2 separate regions of the Homo sapiens genome follow, and region 1 is linked to region 2. The links come from fine-mapping of genetic effects on gene expression. A gene starts in region 2. The other region holds a variant in brackets. All regions are shown on one strand. Distances are between the middles of the regions.

What was found.
Region 1: its variant is fine-mapped to the expression of LINC03034 in lung (TOPMed, PIP 0.97).

Annotation. Positions count from the first base shown.
Region 1 is chr15:31,251,116-31,254,022 of GRCh38, reverse strand. No RefSeq gene overlaps it. Among named protein-coding and RNA genes, the nearest start is that of LINC03034, 22 kb to the right of the region's middle. The variant C/T (reference allele first, on the strand shown) is at 1,405.
Region 2 is chr15:31,229,379-31,232,253 of GRCh38, reverse strand. It overlaps LINC03034 (long intergenic non-protein coding RNA 3034), which reads left to right and starts at 1,392. Exons shown (of 4, transcript NR_171016.1): 1 at 1,392-1,547.

The DNA.
Region 1 (2,907 bases), 22 kb before region 2:
ATTTTATTATATATATTTTATTATACAATTTTAAAGTTAGTATGTTTGCTTAAAATATTTAATATATAACACTCATTGGCAAATGACAAAAGAAATCCCCCTGCAAAATAGCATTTTATTAAATGCTTTATTTATTTATTTATTTATTTTTTGAGACAGAGTCTTGCTGTGTCGCCCAGGCTGGAGTGCAGTGCCGTGATCTTGGCTCACTGCAACCTCTGTCTCCCAGGTTCAAGTGATTCTCCTGCCTCAGCCTCCTGAGTAGCTGGGACTATAGAAGCGAGCCACCATGACTGGCTAATTTTTGTATTTTTAGTAGAGACAAGGTTTCACCATGCTGGCCAGGCTGGTTTTGAACTCCTGACCTCATGATCTGCTCACCTTGGCCTCCCAAAGTGCTGGGATTACAGGCATGAGACACTGCATCCGGCCTAAATGCTTTATTATTTATTAAAACATTGGAGGATAAGTGCAGTGGCTCATGCCTGTAATCCCAGCACTTTGGAAGGCTGAGGTGGATAGCTTAAAGCCAGAAGTTTAAGACCATCCTGGGCAACATAGTGAGACCCCCCATCACCCCCCGCAAAAAAAAAGCCTGGGTGTTGTGGCTCACACCTGTAATTCCAGCACTTTGGGAGGTTGAGGCAGGCAGATCACCTGTCAGGAATTCGAGGCCAGCCTGGCTAACATGGCAAAACCCTGTCTCTACTAAAAATACAAAAATTAACCAGGTGTGGTGGTACATGCCTATAATCCCAGCTACTTGGGAGACTGAGGCACGAGAATCGCTTGAACCTGGGAGGTGGAGGTTTCAGTGAGCCGACATTGCACCATTGCACTCCAGCCTGGGCAACAAGAGTAAAACTCAGTGTAAAAAAAAAAAAAAGGAAAAAAAGAAAAATAAAAATTTTGGAATAGCTCTTCATAGGAAAGTTATCTCTTACTCTGAGTTCATAGTACTTGTGAGTCTAAAAATTTTTTGATTTTCCTGAAAAAGAAGAAAATAATTCTGGCTTAAGTTAGCATCTGGACTCTTCACAGATTTAGGTGGAAAAGCTAGAGGATTCACATTGAACATTGTATTTTGTAAGCCCCCAGCTTTGACCCTACCATGGTAGAGAGTTGCTAATGATTTCTCTTGGTGAAATCTAAGCTTTAACAACATTTCTAAGTCGCTGATGTATCTGAACCCATAAATATCTTTGGAGAAATGACAATGACAACATTTTGCATGATTTCTTTCATTCATTTGTGTATTAAAATAATTATCAAGCAGCTATTATATGCTAGGCAGAGCGCAAGGTACTGGGAATAAAAGAAATGACTATGACAAGATTACTGTCCTCCAGGAGCTGTGAGTTATTTGCAGATAGACACACGCTGTGCGAGAGAACAACCCCTAAA[C/T]GTAAGTAACTATTTTTTCCACACTATCATTTCTCTACATACTATTCATTAGAAGTGAGTCACTAAGTACAGCCCACACTCATGGAGAGGAGATTTGATGGGAAGAATAGCAAAGCATTTGTGGACTATTTTAAAACCATCACAATGGGGATGGGGGACCAAACACGGGGCCAGCTAACAGCTGGTGGGTCCTGATCCATCACTAATAAGCTCTGTGATCCTAATTGATTAGCTAACTCCCCGGGCTCAGTCTCTCTCGTGCAGTCTGGAGATGATGCTACTATATCTGTCACAGGGCCAGTTGTTCAACACAGCAGGGAGGCAGATAGCAATTGAGTCAAGGGCGTGAGCTTTGGAATCAAATCCCTGCCCCCACCACTTCAAGTCTCTGAGCCTCAGTTTCCTCATCTGTATCATTACCTACATGCCAGGTTTGTGGAGAAATAACTTGAGGCAAGTATGTGTAGAGAATTGGTCTTGAGTGAGTCTAAACTGAGCCAGCCCAGAGACATCTATTTGCTGGAGAAGACAAGGGGTGTTGAGAAGGCATTTTGCATGTAACGCGACCAGTGGAAGAACATGCTGGAGGAGACCTTCGCCCCATCACCTGCAGGTTCTTGTGACCCCACAGGAAGCCAGCCTCCGCCTTCATCATTTTCCCCAGCTGGGCTGCCTTCTGGGAACATGACCAAAATTTTGGATCTGGGGGAAGAATTCAGCTGCTCCTAGGACTAAAAGCATTATCCCCAGACTGAAGCCAAAGGCACCCTTCACTATGATCTCTCACTGTTTGGAGATACATGCAAACAAATGTGGTCATATGGCCCTGCTCAAACCCTGGTGGCTTGGAACACTCTGGAAGCCACCTTTCGGAGTGCACATGGGGCACATGGAGACTGGAGTCCCAGCTTTGAGGAGAATGCTCAGCTCAGGACTGGGTGCTCCAGGCTCAGAATCAAACTTTTGTGAAGTCCAAAATCAGTTTTAACCCATGATTTCTGGGCACCTATCTCTGAGGATCTTCAAGTTTTTCTGGAAGGCGAGTAGCATGTCAGTGGCAGGATGTTCTATTAGGGGCTCTAATAAGTTCTAGCGATCCTGTTCCTCTGGGAGCCAGCTCTGGGTCTAGGGGCTTACTCTGAAGCAGGCTCTGTAATGCAGGGTGCTGCTGGAAACTGGAAATATGCAAGAAACTGCCTGCAAGGATGTGCAGTTGCACGCACAGCGACTTGGGCAAGTCCCCACTGGAGAGGCTCGACCCTCTGGTAACCCACGGGACCTGATTTTACCTTCCTATGGGGAGTGTTTGACAGAAGGGCTGCTTGTCCATTGCGCTGAGCAAGTCCTCCAAGGTCTGCAGGCCCCTTCCCAGGCAAGGCTGCATGCCTGAGACAAGGGAAAAGAACATGGAACAGCCAAAGACTTCCTCTCCGCCTTGAAATCATGCATTTTTGCTTTTTTTGTTTCTAAAACAGAATGGAGAGAAGCCCACGTCTCAAGACC
Region 2 (2,875 bases):
CGAGTAGCTGGACTACAGGCATGCGCCACCATGCCCAGCTAATTTTTGTATTTTAAGTAGAGACAGGGTTTCACCATGTTGGCCAGGCTGGTCTCGAACTCCTGACCTCTGGTGATCTGCCCGCCTCAGCCTCCCAAAGTGTTGGGATTACAGGTGTGAGCCACCACACCCAGCCTAGAATGCCATTCTTGTTTCCTGGATGCAATCTCCTCTATCAGCTCCCAAGAATGTGACTGACAGGGGCTTCATGTTGAGCTTTGCTCTGCCCCTTCCCTCTGCTTCCTCTGAGTGCCTCTTCCCTATGTGTTGCTGGTTGTGCTCCATGTTGGCTGCTTCACTCCTGTGTTCAGTGACCGTGGGCAGTTGGTTCATCTCCAAGGGCACAGCCCTGAAGAGCTCACTGAAGACTTCTTGCTGGCAGGGGATGGTTATAGACTGGTGGCTATAGCAGATTCTTTGTTGGGCAACCCTTACCTGCAAACATGTTTAGGTCTCCTCTCTAGGAACATATGTCCTGCCTGGTACTTGTAGGTCATGCTGCCAACTTCCTGGGAGTAGAGTCGGGAGGGGGTCTTGGGGATCTCCTCAGTGTAGGTGAAGTCTTTCTTCTTATACCTCGACCCCTTTTTAGTCCAGAACCCCACCCCTGCCTTCTGCTGTCCTTCAGCCCCTGAGCCTAGAGCCTCCTTTCTACAATTTCCCCAAAGAACAAACTTCCAGGCTTGTCTGAGGCATGCTGTGGAAGGAACCTGGGATCTCAATGGCTTCCCAGACAGAGTGCTGATCAAGCCCCCTGGTTTGGCCTCCACTGCCCCTGCCCCATGGCCTCTGTAGTGCCAGCTGTCTCCACTTGCCCAGGCTTCTGGGTGGGACCAAATGAATGGCCTTGATTATTAGCAGCATCGTCCCTCCTTGCCTTCACCTGTCCTTGGGTCCTAGCTTTGTCCCATCTGTTCCCCTCACTCACATCTCAGTCTACCTATCAAGAAAATGGGGATAACAGTGGTTCCCATCTCCTGGGATTGCTGTGAAGAAGAAATGAGCTCAGGGTGGTGTCATCATCACCAAGATGGAAATAACCTGGGCAGCCCCTCGGGCAAGCTCTGTCCCCAGTGTGTGTTCTGTTCTGCTCACACAGACCCAGAAAGAGGAGCCAGCCAGGTGACAGTATGAAACACACATGTTGAGTGTGCAGAGCCGGGAACTCTGTTCCTTGCACGTGCTCCAGGCCCTGCCAATGGTGCATGACCAGTCACCAGCCAAGCATGGCGCTGAGAACGTATGTGGCCTCCCTGAGGCTTTGCTCAGTCCCCTCCCTCCACACCCACAGAAAGAGGTGTGCACACATGCAAAATAGCAATAATAATAGTATGAGATGGCAGCTGAGACCTGTGCAGCTGATGACAGTTTGAAAGAAGGATGAGCAGGCTCTCTGCCATCTGCCCACCAACTTTTCAAGTTACTTTTACCCACCTTCAAAATTACATCTGCTTTTAGCAAGAATTACTGATGTGATAAAGATGGGAGTGTTCACCATGCAAGGGCAGGTAAGTTGCTCTGTGCCACTGGGGGTTTAACCCTTAAAAGGAGAGGGGTCTCCCTTCAGCTGCTGCAGGATCCTGGTAGAAGGGGGCACAGATGACATGAAAACCCAGGGAGCCATGCCTGCTGCTGGGATCCGGGCTCACCCACCTCGTGCCCCTACCCAAAACTGTCGGGACACGAAGCCTTGCCGGGAGCCTCGAATGCCCAGGGGCTTGGCCAGGCCACAGACTGTGCGGGGAATGTGTGCACACTGCCCACTTTATCCCATGGCTGTGCCCGCCATAGGTTATGCAGCAGCAGTGGGCACGCGCAATTCAGTTGAATTCAGGGAAGCCAGCAAGTGCTAGGGAATTTCGATGGATGACCTAAGCATGGTCAGGTGTCTATTTAGAAAAATATACACGGCCAGGCGCGGTGGCTCATGCCTGTAATCCCAGCACTTTGGGAGGCCGAGGTGGGTGGATCACAAGGTCAAGAGATCTAGACCATCCTGGGCAACATGGTGAAACCCCGTCTCTACTAAAAATACAAAAATTAGCTGGGTTTGGTGGCGCACGTGTGTAATCCCAGCTACTCATGAGGCTGAGAAAGGAGAATCGCTTGAACCCGGGAGGCAGAGGTTGCAGTGAGCTGAGATGGCACCACTGCACTCCAGCCTAGTGACAGAGCGAGACTCCGTCTCAAAAAAAAAAAAAAGAAAAGAAAAATATACACTTAGGAGGGCGAGGCAGGCAGATCACTTGAGGTCAGGAGTTCGAGACCAGCCTGGCCAACATGGTGAAACCCTGCCTGTCTCTACTAAATATACAAAAATTAGCTGGGTGTGGTGGCGCACACCTGTAGTTCCAGCTACTCAGGAGGCTGAGGCAGGAGAATCGCTTGAACCCGGGAGACGGAGGGTCCAGTGAGCAAAGATTGCACCGCTGCACTCCAGCCTGGGCAACAGAGCAAGACTCTGTATCCAAAAAAACAAAAACAAAAACAAAACAAAAAAACAAAAAAGCAAAACAAAAAAAAAAAACCACTTAATGTACATGATGTGGTAGAAGAAAAGCACTTATTAGTGAGAATTGCCGCCTCCTCCTAAGAAGAGTGTCCCCTACTGCAGGGTGCTTTGCTTCTTAATCAGGCTCAGGAGGGAGGGTCTGAGGCCATTGAGACCATGCCTGGAACAAGGAGGCAGACAGCCAGGCTGGTGACTACAGAGTGCCACGCACACACAGGGGGTGGAGCCAGCACCTCTGTGCTCCACCTATGAAGTGGCCGGCAGTCCTTCCCAGGAGGGTGTGAGCTGAGGTCTCCTGGGTACACCAGCCAGCCCACGGCACAG